Regions from separate parts of the Homo sapiens genome. Here region 1 is linked to region 2. The links come from fine-mapping of genetic effects on gene expression. A gene starts in region 2. The other region holds a variant in brackets. All regions are shown on one strand. Distances are from middle to middle. Region 1 overlaps ARCN1 (archain 1 coat protein complex I subunit delta). Region 2 holds the start of IFT46 (intraflagellar transport 46).

The links.
Region 1: its variant is fine-mapped to the expression of IFT46 in aorta (GTEx, PIP above 0.99). The same link has a PIP of 0.9 or more in atrial appendage, esophagus muscle, stomach and tibial artery.

Annotation. Positions count from the first base shown.
Region 1 is chr11:118,585,661-118,590,107 of GRCh38, reverse strand. All of the region lies in intron 5 of ARCN1 (archain 1 coat protein complex I subunit delta), which reads right to left. Among named protein-coding and RNA genes, the nearest start is that of ARCN1, 15 kb to the right of the region's middle. The variant T/C (reference allele first, on the strand shown) is at 1,554.
Region 2 is chr11:118,563,887-118,567,886 of GRCh38, reverse strand. IFT46 (intraflagellar transport 46) reads left to right here and starts at 1,956. Exons shown (of 12, transcript NM_001168618.2): 1 at 1,956-2,097; 2 at 2,826-2,922. LOC124902764 (a long non-coding RNA gene) reads right to left here and starts at 2,826. Exons shown (of 4, transcript XR_007062907.1): 1 at 2,513-2,826; 2 at 2,182-2,275; 3 at 1,601-1,685. RefSeq lists an enhancer at 1,684-1,913.

The DNA.
Region 1 (4,447 bases), 22 kb before region 2:
AGGAGAATCGCTTGAACCACGAGGCAGAGGCTGTGGTGAGCCGAGATTGTCCCACTGCACTCCAGCCTGGGCAACAAGAGTGAAACTCTGTCTCAAAAAATAAAAAAGAAAAGAAAAGAAAAAAGAAAGGTAGAAATCAGAACTCCCTTTCTCCAAGGTCTAATGATTAGCCATCAACAACGTTTTTTTAAAGGTGCTACTGCTATAGCTATCAACATTTAAAAGGCGATACCCTTTGATACAGCAATTCTTCAACAGACTCTATCCTACAGATAAATTCTCACCTGTGCAAAACAATCTGCTAAGTTATTCACTGAAGAATTGTTTGTAATGGCAAAAGTTTAGAAACATGTCTGCCAATAGGGGGCTGCTCAAATAAAGGCATATTCACGGGCGTGGTGGCTCACGCCTGTAATCCCAGCACTTTGGGAGGCCAAGGCGGGTAGATCACGAGGTCAGAAGATCGAGACCATCCTGGCTAACATGGTGAAACCCCACCTCTACTAAAAATACAAAAACAAAATTAGCCGGGTGTGGTGACGGGCGCCTACTCAGGAGGCTGAGGTGGGAGAATGACGTGAACTCAGGAGGCGGAGCTTGCAGTGAGCCGAGATGGTGCCACTGCACTCCAGCCTGGGCAACAGAGTGAGACTCTGTCTCAAAAAAATAAAAAATAAAAAATAAAGGCATATCCACCCGAATGAATAGTAGGCAATGGTGAGAAAACAAACAACTGAAAAAACTTTCTATTTGTAAGTATTTTCAAGCTTAAAAAAATTAAAATTATACAAGGAAGACATATATACCCTTTTCCAGATTCACCTATTGTTAATATTTACCTCATTTGTTTTATAATTTGCACTTGTGTTTCTCTCTCTCTAAACATTATATATGTATGTTATACATTTGATTTTTTTTCCCTGAACCATTAAGAAGCAGATTATATACAACACGGCACTTTACCCCTAAATACTTCAGTGCTTATTTTATAAGATTAGGGATATTCTCTTACATAATCAATCACAGTACCATTATTAACTTCACAAATTTACACTGATAGTTTTTTTAGCTTTTTGTTGTTGTTGTTTTGAGATAGAGTTTCACTCTTCTTGCCCAGGCTGGAGTGCAATGGCGTGATCTCGGCTCACTGCAACCTCTGCCTCCCGGGTTCAAGTGATTCTCCTGTCTCAGCCTCCTGCGTAGCTGGGATTTCAGGCACCTGCCACCACGCCCGGTTCATTTTTGTATTTTTACTAGAGTCAGAGTTTTACCATGCTGGCCAGGCTGGTCTTGAACTCCTGACCTCAGGTGATCTGCCTGCCTCGGCCTCCCGAAGTGTTGGGATTACAGGCGTGAGCCACCGCACCCAGCCTGTTGTTGTTGTTTAAGAGACAGATCTTGCTATGTTGCCCAGGCTGGAGTGCAGTGGCTATTCAGAGACACAATCACAGTTCACTATAACCTTGAACTCCTGGTCTCAAGTGATCCTCCTGCCTCAGCCTCCTGAGTAGGAAGGACTACAGCCATGTGCCATCATGCCAGGCTAACAATGA[T/C]ACAATAATTGTATCCGATCTGTCAACCATATGTCAATTTCGTCAGTTGACCTAATAATATTTTTAATAGTAGTTGTGATATTATGATATACATACATACCGGTTTTCATCCATGGTTCCTAGCTCATAACTCCCATATCCCTTATTATACATAATGTTGGGGCACTTTAGGCCTCAGGAGCAGCCCTTAGAAAAAAGAACCTCTCTTTGACCTTCTCCTGCCCTCCTTTCACCAGCCCAAGGCAGGATCTCCAAAAGGGGTCCTGCACCATATCCTGGAGGAAGATTAATGCTGCACAGAGAGGCCAAGAATTTGGACAGGCCTTGCTGTGTTTCCCCACTCAGCCTATCAGTATTAGGTCATACCCTTGCCCAGTCACATTTCTGCATGCCTGTCAATCATGCCTATCCAATGAAGTCTCCATAAAAGGCTCAAGAGGACAGGGTCTGGGAAGCTTCTGGACAGCTGAACACATGCAGGCTTACAGGAAGATGAACAAGGTCTCATCTATTTTCCAGGAGGGTGGCGTACCCCAGCTCCCTGGGGACAGAAGCTCCTGTGCTCAAGACCCTCCCAGACCTTGCCCTATGTATCTCTTCATCTGGCTGCTTATTTGCATCCTTTAAAATGTCCTCTGTAACAAACTGATAAATGTCAAGTAAGTTTCCCTGAGTTCTGTGAGGTGCTCTAGCAGATTAATTGAACACCCCAGAGGGGGTCGTGGGAGGCCAAACTTGAGGTCAGTAAGAAGTTCTGAAAGTCTGGACTTATGACTGGTGGGAAGGAAGAATCAGTCTTGGGGGACTGAACTCTCAACCTGTAGAATCTGAGGCTATTCCCAGGTAGATAGCATCAGAATTGAATTGAATTGGAGGACACCAGCTAGGTGTGACCGCTTGATGTGTGCGGAAAAATCTAAACACACTTGATCACAGAAGTCTTCTGTGTTCATTGTTGCTGTTGAATGAGAAAATAGAAAAAACAAACAGTTTGAGTTGTTTTTTCTACACTACATTAGTAGAGGATCCAGTCTAGGGTAAGGTATTGCGCATTTAGATGTCATATCTCTGCAGTTTCAAATAAGGAGATTCTTATCTCCAAAATAATTAAATGAAAAATGCAATTGGAAGACGTGTCTAGTTTTACTGCTTTGCATAAAAGGGGGAAAAATAGACACACTGTATACATGTTTTTTATTCATCTGTATATCACAGACCATCCCCCTTAGAAGGATACACAAAAAACTCTGTTAATACTAGTTGTCTCCAAAATGAGAAACTGGCATGGCTGAGTGAGAGGAAGACTTCTGACTGTTAACAACTTTTGAATTTTGTACTATATGAATGTATAATCCAATTTTTAAAAGATTAAAAACTGCTGCTGCTAGAGGCAAGTATTAAGTACAATCTATTCATATTCAGTAATAGACATACGTTTGGCTGGATGAACTACAGAGGCTACAAAAAATATTTTGTTATCCTACCATGTTCTTTGTTCCAACCTCTTAGGTCTTCCTAGAAACAAAGGCATCAGAGTCAAGACCATAAAGGAGTGCATCTTAAGACAATGCATGGTACCATTTTACCTTCACAAAAGTTTGCTCTGTGCTCAAGAGGCAATTTATCATTTAGAAAAAAACAGTGTCTCAAATTCTCTTTAATATGTGATGATCTCCAACATTTTTTTTTTTTTTTTTTTTTTGGAGATAGAGTCTCACTCTGTCGCCCAGGCTGGAGTGCAGTGGCACCATCTTGGCTCACTGCAACCTCTGCTTCCCGGGTTCAAGCAATTCTCCTGCCTCAGCCTCCTGAGTAGCTGGGACTACAGGTGTGTGCCACCACGCCCATCTAATTTTTTGTATTTTAGTGGAGAAGGGGTTAATTTTTTGTATTTTAGTGGAGATGGAGTTTCACCATGTTGCCCAGGGTGGTCTTGAACTCCTGAGCTCAGGCAATCCGCCCACCTCAGCCTCCCAAAGTGCTAAGATTACAGGTGTGGGCCACTGCACTCAGGAATATCTTTTTAAAAGTGTGAAGCCTCTGTCTCACTCAAAGCAACCACTAGGAAGAGCACAGCGGCTTTAGTGAATCAAGAAATTTATCCCAATGTAACCCTGTTCATTTCATACAGAACAGGGCATATAAAGAGTAAATACTTGGCTGGGCACGGTGGCTCACGCCTATAATCCAAGCACTTTTGGGAGGCAGAGGCAGGCAGATCACTTGAGGTCAGGAGTTCGAGACCCACCTGGCCAACACGGCAAAACTCTGTCTCTACTAAAAATAAGAAAATTAGCCGGGTGTGATGGCGTGCACCTGTAATCCCAGCCACTTGGGAGGCTGAGGCAGGAGAATTGCTTGACCCCGGGAGGTGGAGGTTGCAAGATCGTGCCATTGCACTCCAGTCTGGGAGACAGAGCAAGACTCTGTCAAGAAAGAAAGAAAGGAAGAAAGAAAGGAAAGAAGAAAGAAAAAGAGTAAATACTCCTCTTTTATGCACACCTGATAAAGGTATCCTCCTGGTATTATCTTTCACTTGACCTCAAAACCATCAGCAACAGTAGAAGGTCTGGCTTCAAGACGAGAAATCTGAGTCACGAATATGTGAACTTGATAACTACCACTTAAAAATGTCACCAACCAGTACCACAGCCCTGAGATAAGAGATGAATCAAAATATTCCATACTGGCTTCAAATATTTAAACTGCAAAAGATGGCTGGGCATGGTGGCTGACGCCTGTAATCCCAGTACTTTGTGAGGCCGAGGCAGGCAGATTGCTTGAGTCCAGGAGTTCGAGACCAGCCTGGGCAACAAGGCAAAACCCCATCTCTACCAAAATACAGAAATTAGCCCAGCGTGGTGGTGCATGCCTGTAGTCCCAGCTACTTGGGA
Region 2 (4,000 bases):
AATCTGTAGATTGGCAGTAACATCTATCTCATAAGGTTGTGAAGTAAATTAGATGATATAATCTAAGTGCTCCCCACAAAAAAACTAAGTGCTCCTACATAGTAAGTACTGCACATTACATATCCACTATTACGAGCAAAACAGATCACAAATTTTTTTTTAAATGCAGTTCTATTTTTAACTATCAGTATGCCAGAAAAGCTGTCTCTCATTTTTTAAAGGCACTTTCCTTGTTTACCTCTGGTAGGTTTTCAGGGTCAAATTTCCAATATTATTTTCTTTTTAAAATGTATTGCTATTATTATTATTTTGAGACGGAGTCTCGCCCTGTCGCCCAGGCTGGAGTGCAGTGGTGCGATCTCGGCTCACCACAACCTCCACCTCCCGGGTTCAAGCAATTCTCCTGCCGCAGCCTCCTGAGTGGCTGGGATTACAGGCGCGCGCCACCATGCCTAGCTAATTTTTGTATTTTTAGTAGAGACGGGGGTTTCACCATGTTGGTCAGGCTGGTCTTGAACTCCTGACCTTGTGATCCACCCACCTTGGCCTCCCAAAGTGCTGGGATTACAGGCGTGAGCCACCGTGCCCGACCAAAAAATTATTATTGTTATTATTCATTATTTATATTTGAGATGGGGTCTTGATCTGTTGCCCAGGCTGGAGTGAATGCAGTGGCCCAATCTCGGTTCACTGCAACCTCTGCCTCCCTGGCTCAAGCAATCCCCCCGCCTCAGCCTCCCGAGTGGCTAGCACTATAGGTGCGTGCCACCACACCTGGCTAATTAAAAAAAATTTTTTTTTTATTTTTAATAGAGTGGAGGGGGGCGGTTCTTGCTATGTTGCTCTAGCTGGTCTCAAACTCCTGAACTCAAGCAATCGTCCCACCTCTACCTCCTGAAGTGCTGGGATTACAGGTGTGAGCCACCGCACCTGGCCTCCAATATTTTATGTTTCTCTCTCCCTGACTTCCCAAATTAATTATGTCCACAGTTTGAAAATATTTGTTCCTTACATCTCCATTCACTCATTCCTCGATTCATCCACCCAATGAGCATTGTTAGTGTCTAATTTCTGCAATACACTGGTGTTACAAAGCTTAAAAATTAATTAGACACAGGTCTTGCTTTAAATAAGTTAAAAGTCTACTTTAGCAAATAAGAAAGACAGGACACAGAGTGAAAAAAAATTTTTTTTGAGACGGAGTCTCGCTTTGTTGCCCAGGCTGGAGTGCAGTGGTGCGATCTCGGCTCCCTGCAAGCTCCGCCTCCTGGGTTCATGCCATTCTCCTGCCTCAGCCTCTCGAGTAGCTGGGACTACAGGCGTCCGCCACCACGCCCGGCTAATTTTTTGAATTTTTTAGTAGAGACGGGGTTTCACCGTGTTAGCCAGGATGGTCTCGATCTCCTGACCTCGTGATCCGCCCGCCTTGGCCTCCCAAAGTGCTGGGATTACAGGCGTGAGCCACCGCGCCCGGCCCACAGAGTTAAATTTGAACCTCAGATACCCAAGGAATAATTTATTGCTATAAGTATGTTCCATTCCATGGCACCCTGTGGAGGGGAAAGACTATAGTGTAATATAGTGCTAGAAAAGGACTTACAGAGTGCTGCGAAATTTCCCCTGGAATGTGTCTACATCCTGGTAAGACTGATCTGGGAGCAACTGCATCCCCAGAGATTGTTGTCCTAGGGGAACAAACGCACACCTTGTTTCCAGATTGAAGGGCTAACTCTACACCAGCCCGAAATTTATCAGCCGCGTTGCCACCCATAGCCGCTAGATGCCGCAACAGACGTATTTACTGAAACCATAGACAAACAGGCGACTTGGCCGCCCAGAGAGGCTTTATCCGTGACTCCTTGATCTTCTTCCTGCGTGGAGAGCCTTCGCGGGTGAGGCTTAACGCGCAGGAGGTCTCACGAGAGTGGAAGCAACTCTCGCGAATTTTAAAATTTATCTTTTTGCCTAGCGACTGACAACAGGCTGGTTGCTTGGCGTGGAATCCTAAAGTGGCCTGGCTTTGAGACTGGAGTGAGACCCCAGCCCTAGGCTGGGGTTCTTTCCATTATAGAGGAGACGGATTCAGAAGGGCTACAGGTAATTAGTACTCATCCCAGCAAAAAGGGAACTGTCTTTCTAGAGAGGCTTAAGAGGACTCCCCTTTACCCCATTCCCGGTTACCTCTTCCAATCTCCGTGGTAACTGTTCCTTCGTCACCTCACCACCAACCGTCCTGCTTCCTTTATTCCCCCAAGAAACTTAGGTGGGATCCTATCTGCAAGATAAGGGTGAAAGTGGAGGTGATGATTTTGGGATTATCGGATGGGACTGAGAGACTGGAGTTTCCCCTCTCTTCGGGGACCCTCCCACCCTACCCCGCCTCAGCCCACCCCACCCCACCCCACCCCACCCCACCCCACCCCACCCCAGAGGTGACTCCAGAGACAGAACTCTTTCTAGAACCTCTACAGCCTTCCCTGAGAAACCTCAACAGCCTTGGCCATCTACATACAAATAGTGTTCTGCCCTTGCGCGTGGTCGTACAGCTTTGGGAAGCTGCAGAAGTTGGCTCTCTTTCCCTCCACGATTCCCTGGTTCCTCAGCCAGCCTGCCAGCAGTTCCTAAATAAGGGCTGCAACAGAATGACTTAACTGCTTGACCGAGGGCCAGGAAGCCTGAAGGAAAGTTTGGATGGGGTGATGGTTTTGTGAAAAACTGGTTTCTTGAGTAAGGAAGAGGAGCCAATGCTGGTTTGGAATATACCTCCTGGCAGAGTGCTTTATGTCTCATGATAGGAGCTATGAATTATGTCTCCCTTTGCTTAGACCAAGGTTGTTGAAAACCAGACATATGATGAGCGTCTAGAGATTAACGACTCCGAAGAGGTTGCAAGTATTTATACTCCAACCCCAAGACACCAAGGTAAGAGAGGAAAGAAGAGAAATGCTACTGAAAGAGCAGGATGGATTCACGGTTGTCTTCAAGAAGTTCTTATTTTATAATAGCAAATGTTGACTTTCAGCGTCAATTTACTTCACTTGCCATTGTTTGTTTTCTGACTAGTTAAGGGGGAGAAATCATAGCCTTCCAAATTACAGGATCTTCCCCCAATCCAACCCTGTCACCATTTACTTCATGTTACTGCTTTGCTCACTGTCTGCCAGGAATTCACTGTTCTTTTTCTTTTTCTTTTCTTTTTTTTTAACTTATGTTTTTCCTAGCTTTGAAGATGCTTCATAACCTCCCCTTAGCCTGCAACCCCAACCAAAATCACAGTGGAATGTTTTTAAAGGACTGAACACTATTTATTTATTCAACAAACTTTTTTTTCTTAATTTTATAGAGACGAGGCCTCGCTATGTTACCAAGGCTGATCTTGAACTCCTAGCCTCAAGCAGTCCTTCCGCTTTGGCCTCCCAAAGTGCTGGGATTATAGGTGTGAGCCATCGTGTCTGGCCAACAAGCATTTTAAAATGCCTACTGTGTGCCAGCCTTATGCCTGGCACTTGGGTAAATAGTGTTAAATGACACAATGTCCCTGCCATCCCGATGCTGGTAATCATGGGAGGCAGATGACAAATGAGTAAACACATGCCAAATGTGGTAAGTGCACACTGATGGAGGCAGATTGTTTGCTGTTAAGGAGAATAACAGTGAGGAAGGAGACCCACTTTTTTTTTTTTTTTTTTTTTTTTTTTGAGACAGAGTCTCACTCTATCACACAGGCTGGAGTGCAGTGGTGCGATCTTGGCTCACTGCAATCTCCGCCTCCTGGGTTCAAGTGATTCTCCTTCCTCAGCCTCCCGAGTAGCTGGGATTACCACACCCAGCTAATTTTAGTATTTTTAGTAGAGACGGGGTTTCACCATGTTGGCCAGGCTGGTCTCGAACTCCTGACCCCAACTGATCCACCTGCCTCGGCCTCCCAAAGTGCTGGGATTACAGGTATGAGCCACCGTACCTGGCCAGAAACCCACTTTTGATAGGGTGGTCAGGGAAG